2 separate regions of the Homo sapiens genome follow, and region 1 is linked to region 2. Evidence: fine-mapped expression QTL. Tissue or cell type: sun-exposed skin. Region 2 holds a variant in brackets; the other region holds the start of a gene. All regions are shown on one strand. Distances are from middle to middle.

The links. PIP is the estimated chance that this variant, and not a neighbour inherited with it, causes the effect.
Region 1: CDHR1 starts here. The variant in region 2 is fine-mapped to the expression of CDHR1 in sun-exposed skin (GTEx, PIP 0.95).

What each region holds. Positions count from the first base shown.
Region 1 is chr10:84,191,502-84,199,595 of GRCh38, forward strand. It overlaps CDHR1 (cadherin related family member 1), which reads left to right and starts at 3,036. Exons shown (of 17, transcript NM_033100.4): 1 at 3,036-3,314; 2 at 3,993-4,088; 3 at 5,004-5,149; 4 at 6,285-6,335; 5 at 7,531-7,620. The coding sequence starts at 3,260. RefSeq lists silencers at 2,932-3,061, 3,132-3,251.
Region 2 is chr10:84,154,588-84,162,692 of GRCh38, forward strand. No RefSeq gene overlaps it. Among named protein-coding and RNA genes, the nearest start is that of CERNA2, 13 kb to the right of the region's middle. RefSeq lists enhancers at 725-1,238, 6,314-6,815, 7,148-7,863. The variant A/G (reference allele first, on the strand shown) is at 3,308.

The DNA of each region.
Region 1 (8,094 bases), 37 kb after region 2:
CATGGGCAAGGGACTGTGGGTTGGCACACTCAGGTAGATCAGATAAAGGCAAAGACATGGATGTGCACGTGAGCCTGAGTTGGCATATTGGCAGACTTACAACACATGCATGCCCAGGCTAACAGCTGACACGCCAATTCTCGCTTATCAATAGCTGGAGAAGCTGCCATAAATCCACCAGAAGAAGAGCTGTCAGAAGCTGACTTTAAGATGACACTATGTGGTACTGCACTGCAGGTACCATGGCAAGGAGGTCCCAGGAGACAGGGAGCTCACCACCCTTCAGGGGTGACGGGCATTTGGAAGACAGTGTGACTGGTGTGCCTGAGGCTGCCCAGGCTCTGTAAGTGAGGGTCAGGTCCCATGTCTCATGGCAGATGAGTCCTACTGAGCCTTGACAAGCCAAGACCTTCCATACTGCAAGGTCAAGATCAGGGTCCATGGTGAGAACCACCATAAAGAGCTGCTGTTTTCCCAGGTCCTTAGGTGATTTGAGGACAGGGTTGTATCTAGGGTGACCGCCAAATACCAGGTTACCTTAGGCTTTGCTGGTTTTAGCATTGAAAGTCCTGCATCCCTGGAAACCCCTCAGTCCCAGGCAAATTTGGGCAGCTGGTTACACTAGCAGATCTGAACCTAAAACAGCTGAAGGAAGCAGCAGGAGTTGGAGTGGGGGGTGTGGAGGGTCTTTCTCAGACCCTTCTACATCAGAATAGAAGTCAGATGTAATGGTGCTGCCTGTATTCTCAGCTGCTCAGGAGGCTGAGGCAGGAGAGTCTTTTGATCCCTAGAGTTCAGGGCCAGCCTGGGCAACATAATAACACCCTATCTCTAAAAAGAAAGAAGAAGAAAATACAAAGTAAAATACAAAACTGGGGCTCTGGAAGGAATGTGTGATGTGTGAGTGAGAGGCCTAGAAGCTGAAGCTTCAGTAGATTCAAGATCATCTTCTTCTGCCATGAAAAGGGTTTGAACCAGGCGGGCACAGTGGCTCATGCCTGTAATCCCAGCACTTTGGGAGGCCAAGATGGGTGGATCACCTGAGGTCAGGAGTTCAAGACTAGCCTGGCCAACATGGTGAAACCCCGTCTCTACCAAAAAAAAAAAAAAGAAAAAAAATTTGCTGGGCATGGTGGCGTGCACCTGTAATGCCAATATTTGAAAGGCTGAGGCAGGAGAATCACTTGAACCTAGGAGACAGAGGTTGCAGTGAGCTGAGATCCGCCATTGCACTCCAGCCTGGGTGACCGAGTGAGACTCCAGCTCAAAAAAAAAAAGAGTTTGAACCTTCTTTGGAGCCAACCCAAACTGTATGTGAATCCAAGCTCTGCACCTCAGAGAGAATAAGTCACTTGCTTGGTCGTACACAGCCAATGAGGAAATCTCCCTCCTCTGCAAAGCAGAGAAAATCACATTGGGAGAGCAGTGCAGGTCAAATAAGATAATATGGGCAAATATACATAAGCACACATACAGCACATGGCATGTAGGCTACTCCTTCCCCTTCCCTCTCCAGTGCATGGCTGTTGACTGAGGGAACTGAGGAGAGAGAAATCAACGGCCCTAGATTGGTGAGGAGCAGGGCTAACAGGACCCAGGGAGAGCTGGCTTTTCTCGGCCCACCAAGACATCTACTCCAGGAAACCTTGGCTCTGCCTCTGGCTCCTGGGAAATCCACGGCAAGACTCAGTCTCCACATCCCTATATGGGACTTGCAGAATACTTGCCTTAGCTTTGTCCCAGCACTTTGGGAGGCAGATTCAGAACATCTGTGCAATTTAAAGTGTGTCTTTTCAGCAAAAGAGCCAAGCCTAAGGAGACTCAACAAGGGTTTCGGCCAATTAGGCCTGAAAACTGCTGCACATTCTAAAACCATTGATTCATCTTCCTTCTTCTCTGCAAATCCCTGACCCTTGCTCACAGTAGATCATGTAGGGCTAGACCAAGGGATGGGGGGTGCTCTGTTCCCTCAAAGGCCCCTGGCAGGGGGAGGGGGGGAATGCTGAGTCCTCAGCTGTGGAGACCTCTCCCAGGAGCACACAGAGGAGGGATCTCCTCTATCTGAGAACACATCCACCCAAGGGCATCCTGGGAAGTGGCCTGGCTTGGGCTTGAAGTGACCTGTACCCCCATAAATGGCCCAACCAGGAAAAGGAAAACAGGCTGCATTTCCAAGCACCCTCCAGTGTCAGAGCAGGAGAACGAGGAAGCCCAAGGAGCTTTACCAGCAGCCAAAAAGGTTCCTGGGCTTACCTGTGTCTTCAAGTTATCAGCATCCAGGACCCCAATAGCAGTGCCTTGCTTTGTGTAAATACCCTCTAGGAATGAGATCTCGTGCCTCTCGGGCAGTTCAGATCTATCTTGGCCAGCTCTGTGCAAGTCTGTCCTAAGATGGGGCTTAACTCTGCCTTCAGGCCCTTCACTCTTCCTTGGAAGGTTTGAAGAGTGGGTCAGCTGCCCCTTCATGGTCCCAGACTGGGCACTGACTGGGAATGGGGAGCAGAACTGCCTCTCACCCTGGTGGACACCTGAGGGTCCTCCCTGCTGCCCACCACACAGATCAGACCCTTTGGGAGAGGTGGTCCAGCCTGGGGAACAGGGCAGGAATGGGTTGAGATCACAGAGAGGGGGTCCTGATAACCCCTTACCATCTGCTGCCCATCCATCACCCTTTCTCTTTGCCTTTGGTCTCACGCGGCTTATAGAACCTGCTTAGACTGCTAAGGCAAGGCCCTCTCGGCCGCTCCACTAACTTTTCTTCTGGAATGCTTAGCTCAGAGAAGACAGCTAAGCCCCTGAAAGTCACAGAGGAAGTTGATGAGAAAAGAAAACTGCGAAGCCCAAGCCCCACCAGGACTTAAGTACCCTGGGAAAGCCTCAGGACAACTTGGGGGAAAGACACTCCTGTCCCCCATGGTGTCCTCCTGTCCAGGACTGGGGGCCGCCGGCAAAGGGGGCGTGGCGGGCGGGGAGTCCTCTTGTCACGCCCTCCTGCCCCCGCCCGCGGCTGGGAGCCTGTCGCTCCGCTCTGCGCCGCTAATTGGTCTCGTCAGGCGGCCGGCAGGAGCAGATCCGAGCCGTGTCATCCTCTTAGCGCCCTCACGCCACCCGCCGCTCCCGCCCCGTGCCCCCTCCCGCCGCGGCTGCAGTCGCCGCTACCCCCATTGTGGTCTCTGCCCTCCCCGCGGGCCCAGGGCATGCTCCGTGCCCCTGCGCCCGGTCTCGGCGGCGGCAGGCGACACTCCGCGCCGGCGGAGACATGAGGCGCTGCCGGTGGGCCGCCCTGGCCCTGGGGCTGCTGCGCCTCTGCTTGGGTGAGTGGCCGCTGGGCCGCGCTGGCCGCGTGGATGGCGAGGGAGATGGGCGCTGGCGTCACCCAGGTGGCCAGAGGGACATGGTCCTGGACCACTTCCAGAGTGGGACTCGGGCTGGTGGACGGGAGCGGAGAAGTCCTTCCATCTTCCTGGCCCATTCGGTAGTGGGGAGTGGGGTAGCGGAGTAGTGGGGAGCTCCGGGGCGCTTCTCCAGAGCTGGCATCCTAGGGCCCCAGGGTTTGGCGCCCGGACCCCCGCTGCTCTCCGCTTGCTGGGAACCAGAGCTGTAGGCTTGGTGGCAGCTCCGATGCTGCGTGGGGCAGGAGATAGTGCCCTGACTCGCGGCTTGACCTTGGCTGGGCTGGGGCACTGCCCCTCTCCGAGCGCGGGTGCAATCTGCCCATTGATGAAGGAGGGGTTGGATTGCTACCTGGGTTCTAAGCGCCCACATGCTACGTGTCCCTGACAAGCCCGAGCCCACCGGGGGCGGAGTGGGGGTCAGGGGCATCCTCTGGGCGGCGCCCCAGTGGGGTCCCTCGGTGCACTTGGGTTGGGGAGGCGGAGCGCCCTCCTGCCCAGTAGCTGGGCCTGACGCGGGACCGCGCTGGTGCGAAGCTCCCTCCTGGTGTCTGGGTGTCCTTTGCCTGGGTGTCCGTCTGTTCTGTGTTCTTTTTCCAGCTCAGGCCAACTTCGCCCCGCACTTCTTCGACAACGGGGTCGGCAGCACCAACGGAAACATGGCTCTGTTCAGCCTCCCAGAGGACACCCCTGTAGGTGAGTAGCCCTGGCACCTGCTCCCGATAGGTCTCCCTGAGGGGTGCAGGCAGACTTAGAACACAAAGTGCCCCAGGCACCACCCAAGTTGCTGCGCGCGCCCGGGGGCTCCTTGTTTGCTCTCCGAATTCCCCTGGGCAATGGCAGGAAAGAAGGTCATTGCTGCCATGGCGACTTAAGTCTGGCCAGTCCTGGAGACCAGGGCTCCCCCCCACAGACAGGGTCGCCCCGCGAGGCAGGCAGCTACAGCTGCCCCTTATGGCTGTGTGACCTTGAACAAATGTATTTACCTCCCTGAGCCCCAGGTCTCTAGGCTTTAAAACGGCCTAAGAACATCCAACTTGCTGAGATATGCAGAGAGAGGGGAGGAGAAAGGGGAGATTTCACACTCCTTCTCCCTCACTTTGTGGGTAGTGGGAACCCGGGGAAAAGGGAGAGCAGAGCAAAGTAGGCACCTGGCTCAGAAATCCCTGCAGAACCAGGTCCAGGCATCGGGGACAGTGGTGCACTGTGGGTCACCCCTCCTGCCTTAATGGCTGCTCCCATTTCCCCTTCCCTGTACCCAGGAGCCCCTCAATCTTGGATCCTGAGAGAGGAGTTATTACCAGGCTGAGCAGAACATAGGCACTACAGTTAGGCACGGCAGACCTGCACCTGCTCTGTAACCCGTGTTATAGATTACAATCTGGAAAGTGGCTGATCATCACAACCACCCGCTGTGAAGAATAAACATACAAAGAGGGAAGCAGCCAGCAGGGGTGAGGCCAGCAATGAGCACCAAGTTCAGGGCAGTACCTTTGGCACTGAGTTGAATAGTCACTTTATAAACAGCTGAATCGTTGGTCCTGAGCATCTGCCACTTTTAGGAAAAGTTGGGTCTCAGATTCTATGTCTCTCCACTGTGTTTCCTTCCAGGCTCTCACGTATACACCCTGAATGGGACAGACCCTGAGGGAGACCCCATCTCCTACCACATCAGCTTTGACCCCAGCACTAGAAGCGTCTTTTCTGTTGACCCCACTTTTGGAAACATCACCCTGGTTGAAGAGCTGGACAGAGAGGTATGGGGAGGTGTGGGGAGTGCTGCGGGGCCACTGCCTGTAGACAGACCTCGGTGGGCTGAAGTTCCCCTGGAGCACATTGGTTAGAACCTCTCCACAGAGTAGGGGATGAGGGGGCACACCCCAGGCACATCCACTCTGTGAGATCTCTGGGCCACTTCCCATCAGCAGAGTGGGCTTTACTTTCATGCTCCTCCTTCACACAGAGCGAAGAGTGGGCTCCTTTAACGAGCACCTGCCAGCCCTGCTAATCTTTTAAGCATGTTCCATTAAAAATAAATCCGTTTGCACTTTGAGGTTTCTGAAAGAAACCTCACAAAGTGATTTTTCAAGCCTGTCCTGGGAGAGGCACAGGAACTCAGAGCAGGTCAAGGCTGGAAAGGGTGGTTGGCAGTGAGTCTGAGTTTGGCAGAGCTCCTCCACTCTACACACTTGAGAACTTGCAGGCAACAGGGCATGGGCTTTTTCAGACCGCATAGCAGCCTGGTGTGTGGCTAACTGGACCTCAGCTGTGGGGATGCTGCCAGCTCGTGACAGCCTCCACTAGCTGCAGGACAGGGTAGAGAAAGGAAAGGGAGGTCTCAGGGACTGCTGTGGGGACACAGCAGTGGAGCCTGACTGTGCTGCCAGTACCCCACTCCCTGGCACCCGCGGGATCTGGCAACATCCGATACCCTTCCCCATTGAGGTCTCACCATATCCTGGGAGCACTGAGACACCATGGATGTGAGCCTCTGCAGAGCCCTGGAATGTGGAGAGGTGTGGAGAGAAAAGGGGAGAAAAGGGAAAAGAAAGAGGAAAAGTCTTTATGGGACCTTGAGCACACTAAGGTCGACATCTCGCCTCACTGTGGCAGGAGAGTATTTTCTGTTGGAGCCCCAACAGACCCTCTGGGTCTCTGAGTTTATAAGAACCCCGGACACAAAAGTCCCAAAATAAGGTCTCAAGCATGGGGGGAGGCAGCTTTCTACTCTGCCAGGCATGCTGTCACCACCACTTACCCTGCTCCAGGGATCTATTGGCACGCCCAGACCTCCTCTGATGGGTGCGTGGGGCAGGGAGAGCTCCATCCAGCCACAGGGGTCCTATGGCGTGTCAGACTCCTGGACACTCACTCAGTCCCTGTGCTTCACAGAGGGAAGATGAGATTGAAGCCATCATCAGCATTTCTGATGGCCTGAATCTGGTGAGTGCACGTCCAAGGCAGTCCCTGGCAGCCTGCAGTATTTGGGCCTGAGAAGGGTGAGGCTGGCACGATTCCTCCCCAAGCCTTCATGGGGGCTTTTCTGCAAGTTTAAGCTAGGGCCCAGCAAGACCTGCCCAAAGTGCCCACAGGAGAGGGCTGCAGCAAGGCCAGGGGGAAGGAAGGAAAAGAAGGAATGGAGAGATCAGGCTCTCTGAGCTGAGCTTCTAATGGGTCTAACCCACATTCCACAGCATCTCCTCAAACTTGCCCTCCCCATCTGCTTCCCCCACCCAGGTCTTGCCCTCCTGCTCAGTCACCTGAGCTCAACACCCCACAGCAACCACTTTCTCTCAGCGATCATCAGTGCTCACTGGATAACTCAACAAACCCCAGGGGCTCACTGGCCTCCAGGCTCTCCGACCCCAACTGCCTCTGAAGTTGTCACTATGGAACAGTCAGATCTGCCCACTCTGAGGCTGGGAAAGCACTAACAACTGGCCTCCGCCACTGGCGGGATGAAAATTAAGCTTCTGCCTGGTGTTCCAGGACTCCTCGTTGGGCACCATCTGCCTCACTGCCTTTTCTCTCACATCCACCCCACCCAGGCCATAATCTAGCCATAAATCTACTTTCATCCTCAGCTCACCATGCATTTCACTCCTCTTTGCCTTTGCACATACAACCCCTTCTTCCTGGCACAACTTTCTACCTCTTTCCTTCTGGCAAACTGCCTCATGGATTAATTCTCACTCCTCTAAGAAGCCCACCTGCTCTCCACCACCACAGCCCAGGAACTCTCAACCCCATCGGATGCATTTACACAGGCCATGTGTGTGCGCTGGTGCAGTGCAGGGGCCCCGCCCTCAGTGCCTGGCATACTGCTGCTATCACCTTGAGGAGATCATAAAGTGTTTTTTAATATGCTGATCTTTGCCCTGATATCCCAGCCACCATGACTACTGCAAAATAACACATCATCAGACAGTCTTCTGCCTCCAGGATGAAACACAGTGTTTGGCACTAAGAGGCTGCTTAATGTTTATTGCATTAATGAATAAAAGAAGGAAGAGAGAGAGAGAGAGAGAGAGAGGAGGGATGGGCAGAGACGTGTACATTGGAGTGATAGAGGTCGCTATCCATTCATCCTTCAGAAGGTCTCATTGCACTGGCTCTTGACCCCTCTGCCCCTTCTCAGGTGGCCGAAAAAGTCGTGATCCTGGTGACCGATGCCAATGATGAGGCGCCCAGGTTCATCCAGGAGCCTTATGTTGCCCTGGTTCCCGAGGTAAGTGAGGAGCTGCTAGAGGGGCTGATTTTCCCACCCAGGCCCATAGCCTACCCCTGGGGCTGCCCTGTGGCCTGGCCATGGCTCACTGCCCTGTGGAGAACCTCTCTGTCACCACCTGCTCCCTCCAACATTCGCTTTTATTCCAAAGGAATGTTCATTTGCTTTTTTCCATTATACATGTTCAGTGTAGAATTGTGAAATGTGTAGAAAAGTAAGAGAAACTAGAGTTTTCAAAATCACCCTCGCTGTCTCCAACTTGAGACATTGTTAAATTTTGGTGTATTTCCTTCTAGTCCTTTTTGTCATTATAGAGTTTTGTTTTGTTTTTTTCTGTTTGTTTGGCATAGTTGTGATTATACTAAACATATGCTTCCTATATCCTATTTGCACTTAAGTTATAACATAAGCATTTTCCTCATTAATTGTAAAGTTTGGGTAACTATCATTTTAATAGCTTCCATAAGTGAACAG
Region 2 (8,105 bases):
GTGTGCATCTGTAGTCCCAGGTACTTGAGAGGCTGAGGCGGGAGAATCGCTTGAGACAAGGAGGCGGAGGTTGCTGTGAGCCAAGATCGCGCCACTGCACTCCAGCCTGGCAACAGAGCAAGACTCCGTCTCAAAAAGATAAATAAATAAATAACATATAAAAGGTAAGCTGATATATAAAATGTGATCGTTTGTAAAACATACCAGTTGTAAATGGTAATAGAAAAAAATCACTAGTTTCTTGGCTCTTAACATACCACAGAGTTTTTGTTTTTTTTTTTCCTCATTCACAGCGAAGAGTAATGACCTGCAAAGTGATAGGCTTTAGGTAAAAAAGTAAATGTCCATTTTTCATTTTCTGACATCGTCTGAAATACTAGAGGATAAATGAAACATGTTTTAAAATAATCCCGAGAAAAAAGGCCCTTTGAGTTGTTGCTTAAAATGGCATCTACTGAACAGTCAGAAAACATGAATTTTTTATGTAACAGGTGCCATGCTAGCTGGGCCCAGGGGAGACAATGATGAATAAAAGTAATTGCCTTCTAAAGCATATCAAATCCGTGTAAACACGGCCATAGGCCATTGGATGAGTGTCACAGAAAGGTAAGCAAAATGGAAATGCAGACTGAATAATAAGTTTCTAAGATGGCCCAGGAGGAAATTTTCAAGAGTAAGCATAGTAGGTAAAGCACACAGAAAAAGGTAGTATGGGCATTTCATACAATGGATGCTTGATGGGGGAGGGCTGCAGGGAGAGATGGACAAAGTGGAAAAAGATGGTAAGAAATGGAAATTCTCTTGAAGCTGGATTTCCCACTTGCTGCGGGTGTGTGCTTTGCTTAACATGTTAAAACCTGCAGGCGTGGTGGCTCATGCCTGTAATCCCAACACTTCGGGAGGCTGAGGCAGGAGGATTGCTTGAGCCCAGGAGTTCAAGACCACTCTGCACAACAAAAAAACCCATCTCTACCAAAAATTTAAAAATCAGCAGGGTGCAGTGGCGCATGCCTGTAGTCCCAGCTACTCAGGAGGATTGCTTAAGTCTAGCATTTCGAAGCTGCGATTGTGCCACTGCACTCCTGCTGGGCAAAAAAAAAAAAAAAAAACTAGGAAGACAGGCAGGCATGTTTACCTTGAAATTGTATCTGGGTAACGTGTCCAGGTTAAAGGTACTAAAACTGAGTGATACCCAAGACATATAATTCCAGTGGGGTAGGGTGGCCCAGCTACACTAGTAATAGCTGATGTTTGAATTGAACTCTTTGCCCAAAGTTTGATCTTTGCACAAGGTCATATGGCTGGGAAGAATAATGAGACAAACTCCCTAACCAATTATGCCGGGAGGATAGATGATAGATCTAAAATCGTGTAGGACACAGCCATATAAAAGAAAGCAAGCTTGTCCTTATAGAGTTAGCTGGAGGCCATCATCCTGTTACAAACAACAAATTAACCCAGGAACAAAAAAACAAATGCCCCATGTTCTCACAAATGGGAACTAAACATTGGCTACTCATGGACATAAAGATGGTAATAATAGATACCTGGGATTCCTAGAGGAAGGAGTGGGGCAAGGGTTGAAAACCTATTGGACACTGTGCTCGGTATCTGGGTGATGGGATCATTGGTACTCCAAACCTCAGCATCACGCAGTATACACAAGTAACAACCTGCACATGTATTCCATGAATCCAAAGTAAAAGTTGAAGAAGTAGAATTTTGCTTGAGAATCACAAAAGCACTATACAAATTAAATAGGTTGAGATTCTATTAAAGTGTAAGTCACTTTTAAAATCTTGGGAATCAGTATTCTGAGTAAATTAAAGGAAATAGAACAGGAACATTTTAGTTTTCTGTGAAAAAAAAATTGACCTCAGTGAAGGATACTGGAAATCATCGTGCCTTCCTCACATCTATTTCTTACGGTACAAAATAGTCCTTTTTTGTATTGCCCAGTTCACTCCGAGCTACAAATCAAAATTGACCATTTTTTAAGGTCAATTTCATCAATAAGATGAAATCCTAAATGCATTCCATTTTTAACTAGCACAAAATGGAAATGACTTTTCAGGAATAGATTAGAAAGCTATGACCTTGAGGACTTTCCACCTTTAAAGTAAGATTCTTTTGTGAAGCAATTCAGGAAGATGGACGGTGAACATTCAATTCATTAACATCTGAGAACCATGAAGAGAGTATTTTTTGCCACAAGCAAAAATGAACCTAAATAAAAGACTGGTGGGGGAGGAGAATCATAACGACCATTATGGCCCGCATCTTATGGGCTGCTGCGCAGTTAGCATGAGGGGAGGCCTTGCACAAGCTCTTCCCCTCAGCCTCAGCATCCTGTTCTGCCTCATTTGTGGCTTGCGTCAGACTGAGTCACCCAGCGCAATGTCACTCTTCCTCAGGGGACTTCTCTCAACCTTCCACCTTCTACAGAGAGCTTGATGGATGGTGAGGTTGTTGCAACCTCACTGGATACAGATAGTAGAAGTGCGAGGATCCCCGTGGCTACACTCGAGATAAAATTAATGTGTTCTGGCAGGACTGAATGGACGTTTTTCCTCACAACCGTATACGCAAGTTTAGTAGTTTTTAAACATTCAATTTATGCTTTCCACTGGGCAATTTGTAAAAGCAGCATGATGACCCACAGGTATGGTGTCAGTGGGCCATCATTCCTCCAAGTTAACCCTCCATATGCCTGACATGGATTTTCTCACCTGTGTCCCCAGAGTGTTTTTACACAGTCAACAGAGAAAACAGGTCCATGGCCATCTCATTGGAGGAATGTTACAGGTTTATTTTATTTGCTTAGTAGTTGAATTATCTCATTTCTAAGAGACAGCATTTTTTTGCATTTCATTTCTGAAGTGCATATTCTATTTCAGGATTTTTCTTTTTTTTCTCAAAACTAGCATGTCTTAAAGTCAGTGGCATTTTAAAATGGAAAAATATTTGCCGGTGGTTTTCTTTTTCCCATGATTTTCTAATACTTCACTGTCCTGTAAGAACAGATATCTAAAGCATTGTCTTTTGATAAATGACCTCAGTAACTAATTATTACTTATTTATGATTCAGAGGGGATCTTCTGAAGTACAAACAAGCTCACCCCACCCAGTTATGTACTTTTTTGAAGATTTCTTTTTCTTTTTTTTTTTTTTTTTTTGCTTAAGCAACAAAAATTTATTTTCTTACAGTTCTGGAGGCTAGAAATCCAAGTCCAAGGTTCCAGCATGTTCTGTTTTTGGTGAAGGATCACTTTTATTTTTCTGAGACCGAAGTGCTGGGATTACAGGC[A/G]TGAGCCACCACACTCAGTCAAGGATCACTTTCTAGCTTGTAGATGGCAGCCTTCTTGCTGTGTCCTCACATGGTGGGGTTGGGGGAAGAAGAGAGAAGGCCCAGTTACGTACTTTTAAGTATGCAGGCTGAACGGACTGAGGTCAGCAACACAGAATGACCCCCAAACAGGAATATAAATGGAAGTTAAGAAAGGGCACGTTACTGGTTTGGTATGATCTGTTAGTAGAGTTAGGGATTTAATAGGTTCATTCCATTTGGTACACCTTGAGGGAATGAACTGTTAGCACCAGCTGTGGGGAAACACAAGGATGAATGGCTGGAAACCCATCATTCTAGAAGACAGCATCCAATGAGCAGTGGGAGTGGGTAGTTGCTAGGAGGATCTAATTCTAGAGAGAGAAGGCAGTGCTGGAGGCAGAAGCCTTTACTGTGGGTGGGGAATGTTAATCATTAGAAGCCACTGTTTTAAGAGATTAAATCAACATTTATTAGACACTCTAAAGTAGTACGAGAGTAGTTAAATGATAAGAAATAGCAACACACTTCAATGATTCAAGGTAATTATAAAATCATTATCCAGAAATTACAAGAGGTTTATTCAGACTAATTGCCACCGGAGTTCAGAGGACGGAAGCAAATATGAGGAGTGCATATAGGGACATTTGAGTCCAAACGCACCAGCCCAGAAGGGTTGGTACTTTGTGGAAAGGGGAATGTCTGGCCTGGCTCGCATGTGTAGCATCATGGGGACTTCCTGATCTCCTTTGCAGAGAACCCAACCTTCTCTGCCTGCAAGACCCTGACAAAAATGTGGGTATTCTTGAAAAGCTATAAAATGTCCTTCAGGACTCTGCTGTGTGACAATCAAATGACGCCACCCTTAACCACACTGTTTCTCAGAAGATGCAAGCATGATTGCCTTCCTCATTTAAATAGAACGGTTATTTAAAAAGAAGTTGGATAAATTATGACAAGACTTTCACTGTTATTAATTCTGAGTGGCAGAAAAAAATGGGCATTTGATAAGAAAATGGGGCTTTTGGTATCTTTTTTAGTACATTATAGCTGCCCTTAAGTAATTTTGTAAAAGGCAAAGGACACATGGGGAGAAAATGAAAATTATGGAAACACTTTACAAGGAGCTTTCCAGATCCGGGAACTAGTGGAATGGCCCAGGAAAGCAGTCTCTCCGCCCTGCGGAACTGAACCCAGGGCCTTCAGGGTCCTCCTAGCCTGGCTCCTTCTGTGAGGTTGAAGTTTACCCCGGAGTACATGGCCCTAGCTTCACCTCCCACATCCCTGCCCTTTCCTGGGTGTGCTAGGTGTGGGGGTGAAAATGCGGAGGCAAGGTGACACATGTCTGCTGGGAAGCCTGCTGTCAAATTGCAAAGTACAGAACAGACGCTGACAAACAGGATCCATCTCAGCCCTACCTGCAGTTTTCCAGCTCTAAGCACCGGCAAAAGAGGAAAGCTTTGGCACTGCTAATCCTCCTTTCTACACAACCTCCCTCCCTCCTGCCCGAGTTCCTCCTCGCACTTGCTCTGTTTGTCCTCTCACCTTTCTCTGTCAAAATCTGCACTTGGATATGAGCCTAGGATCAGTCATTTGGACCTTAATTTCAGTGTGTGTGCTTCCTTTGCCTCAAATTGTGGCAAGAAAAATAGTCGTTCCTCATTAAAGCAGTATCAGCTATCCTTGAGCACAAGTGGGAGGTTGGGTATTTTTTGGAGACAGATTGCTGTTGAAAAAGAAAGGAAGATCAGCAGTCCCACTACTGGCTATAAATTCTAGGGGAATTTAATCAGTATCTCGAAGAGATATCTGTACTCCTGTTTATCACAGCACTATTCATGATGGCCAAGATGTGGAATCAAGCTAACTGTCCATTAACAGATGAATAGATAAGGAAAATGTGCTATATATACACAATGGAATGCCACTCAAAAAATGCCTTTAAAAAGAATGAAATTCTGTTACTAGCAACAACAAGGATGAACCTGGAGGACCTTATGTTAAGAGAAATAAGCCAGGTACAGAAAGACAAAAAATGCACGTTTTCATTTCCATGTGGGATCTAAATCAAACTCATAGAAGCGGAGAGTAGAGTGGTGGTTACCAGGGGCTGGTGGGTGGGGGGGAATGAGGAGATGTTATAAATGATGTGTATTTATGGTGATGGATATGGTAATTAGTTTGATTCCATGATTCCACACTGTGTACATATAACATCACTGTGTCTGCCATGATAATATATTATTATAGTTTATCAAAAAATTAATTTTAAAATATACTTCATTATCATATTATAAATTAAAAATGAGAATTCTGCAGAAACTGGAAATCTAAGCCAGTGGTTACGATGTTAACCAAAAAGATCCAGAAGTTTAAAAAAAAAATTCCTGGGGAATAGTATTACATTTTGGATCAGCGTTAAGTTCAATTTCACTAGAATTTCAGGGTCAGAATGGCCTTGTTAGTTGAGTGTTCTAAACTCTTTTATCTGTAGTTAGGTACAATGGCATGTGCCTATAGTTCCAGCTGCCTGGGAGGCTAAGGTGGGAAGATCACTTGAGCCCAAGAGTTTGTTGATGAAAAGAATCCAACTCTGTAAAATATTTGAAGAGTTTTATTCTAAGCCAACTATGCATGACGATGGCCCATGACAGAACCCAGGAGATCACGAGAACATGTGCTCAAGGTGGTTGGGCTATAGCTTGGTGTTGTACATTTTAGGGAGACTTAAGATTTCGATGAATGCAGGTAAGATGTATATTGGTTCAGTACGGAAAGGTGGGACTACTCAGAGGGCTGGGGGGCTTCCAGATCATAGGTGGATTCAAAGATTTTCTGAATAGCAATTTGTTGAAAGTTTATCTAAAGATCTAGAATCAATTGAAGGGATTGTGTGGGTTAAGATAAGAGGTTGTGGAGACCAAGGTTCTTCTTATGCAGATGAAGCCTCCAGGTGGCAGGCTTCAGAGAGAATTGATTATAAATGCTTCTTATCAGACTGGATACTAGACTCTTAGTTAATTCTCTCCTGGATCTGGAAAAAGACCTGGAAAAGGATGAAAATCAACTCTACAGAATGTTGATTTTCCCCTCGAGACAGCTTTGCAGGGCCATTTCAGAATATGTCAAAGAAATACATTTTGGAGGTAAAATACGTATTTCTTTCAGGGCCTGCTAGCTGTAATATTGCTACAAAGAGTCTTCAGGTCTCTATTTTAACGTTAATGCTGGTCAGCTGTGCCTGAATTCCAACGGGAGGAGGGGGTAATGAGGCCTGTCTTCCCACCCATTCCCATCATGCCTGAACTAGCGTTTTAGGTTTACTTTAGAATGCCCTTGGCCCAGAGGAGGAGTCCACTCAATTGGTTGGGGATGGGGCTTAGAATTTACTTTTGGTTTACAAGTTTGAGGCTGTAGGGCACATAATATTATTGCACCTGTGAATAGGCACAGTACTGCAGCATGAGCAGCATAGCCAGAGGAGAACCTGTCTCAAAAAAGTAAAAGCCTTTTATCCTTAACTATTGTAATACTCAATTATAATAAACGTGGGGGGTAAGAAAAATTGAGAAAGGAAGGGAAAGCTATGTACCCCATTTCTGAAAATTGGCCACCTAAAATAATAAAAAATTATGTTCATATTGCATGGCGCTTTTAACATTACACTCTCATCCAGTGAATCTGTTCCTCTCCAGCTGCACCTACTATTTTACATCGAAAATAACAAAGGCACAGAGAAGTTGAGCAACTTGTGCAGGTCACACAGCTAAAACATAGGAGAGCGCTGGTTAGAGCATGGATCATGTGGCTGTAAAGCCTGTGCTATTTTAACAAGTGTAGGGGAGGTAGAAAGACACCAAATACAAGGGTCCTGAGTCCCCTACTTTAGGCTGAAACTTGGGCTGGGTATGAAGGGGTGGGGGCAAAAGACAGAAACTCCAGAGAGAGAGAGAGCAAGGCCAAACATGAAGGGGGTATGCTTATCAAGAGCCCAGGGACTGGTTTCACACATGCTTCAACACCAACCTAGAGTGGCCATGGGAGAATGAAAGACATTGCCTTTTAGTCTCATCTTTGTGGCATAGTGGAGATCATGACATTTCAGCACATTCCCTGCGGAGGAGTCTGCAGGCCTGCTAGCTGCTGCCATAGTGAGGCAGGGTAGCCCTACCACCAATGCTATGGTGGACAGATCAACCCAGGGTACAAGGAGACAATAAACAACGTAAACCCCAAATAATATTATAAGCCCCTCAGCTGACTGATGGACTCCTTTGCTCTTGGCCAAGGGAATTCCAAAGTAAACCTGAAAAAACTAGTTCAGGCCATGATAAGAAGAGGAGGTCGGATATGCCTCACTATACTCTCCTCCTTTGGAATTCAGGCACAACTAAACAATATTAACCTTAAAACAAATCTCAGCATTTTGGGAGGCCGAGGCGGGCGGATCACAAGGTCAGGAGATCGAGACAATCCTGGCTAACACGGTGAAACCCCGTCTCTACTAAAAATAGAAAAATTAGCCGGGCGTGGTGGCAGACGCCTGTAATCCCAGCTACTCAGGAGACTGAGGCAGGAGAATGGCGTGAACCCGAGAGGCGGAGCTTGCAGTGAGCCGAGATCGTGCCACTGCACTCCAGCCTGGGGGACAGCATGAAACTCCCTCTTAAAAAAAAAAAAAATTAAAACAGAGATCTTAAGACTAATAAAGCAGACTTTTTATAGCAATAAGATACCAAATTCCAGCCTGACTCTAGTGTAGTATCACATGACAGATAGT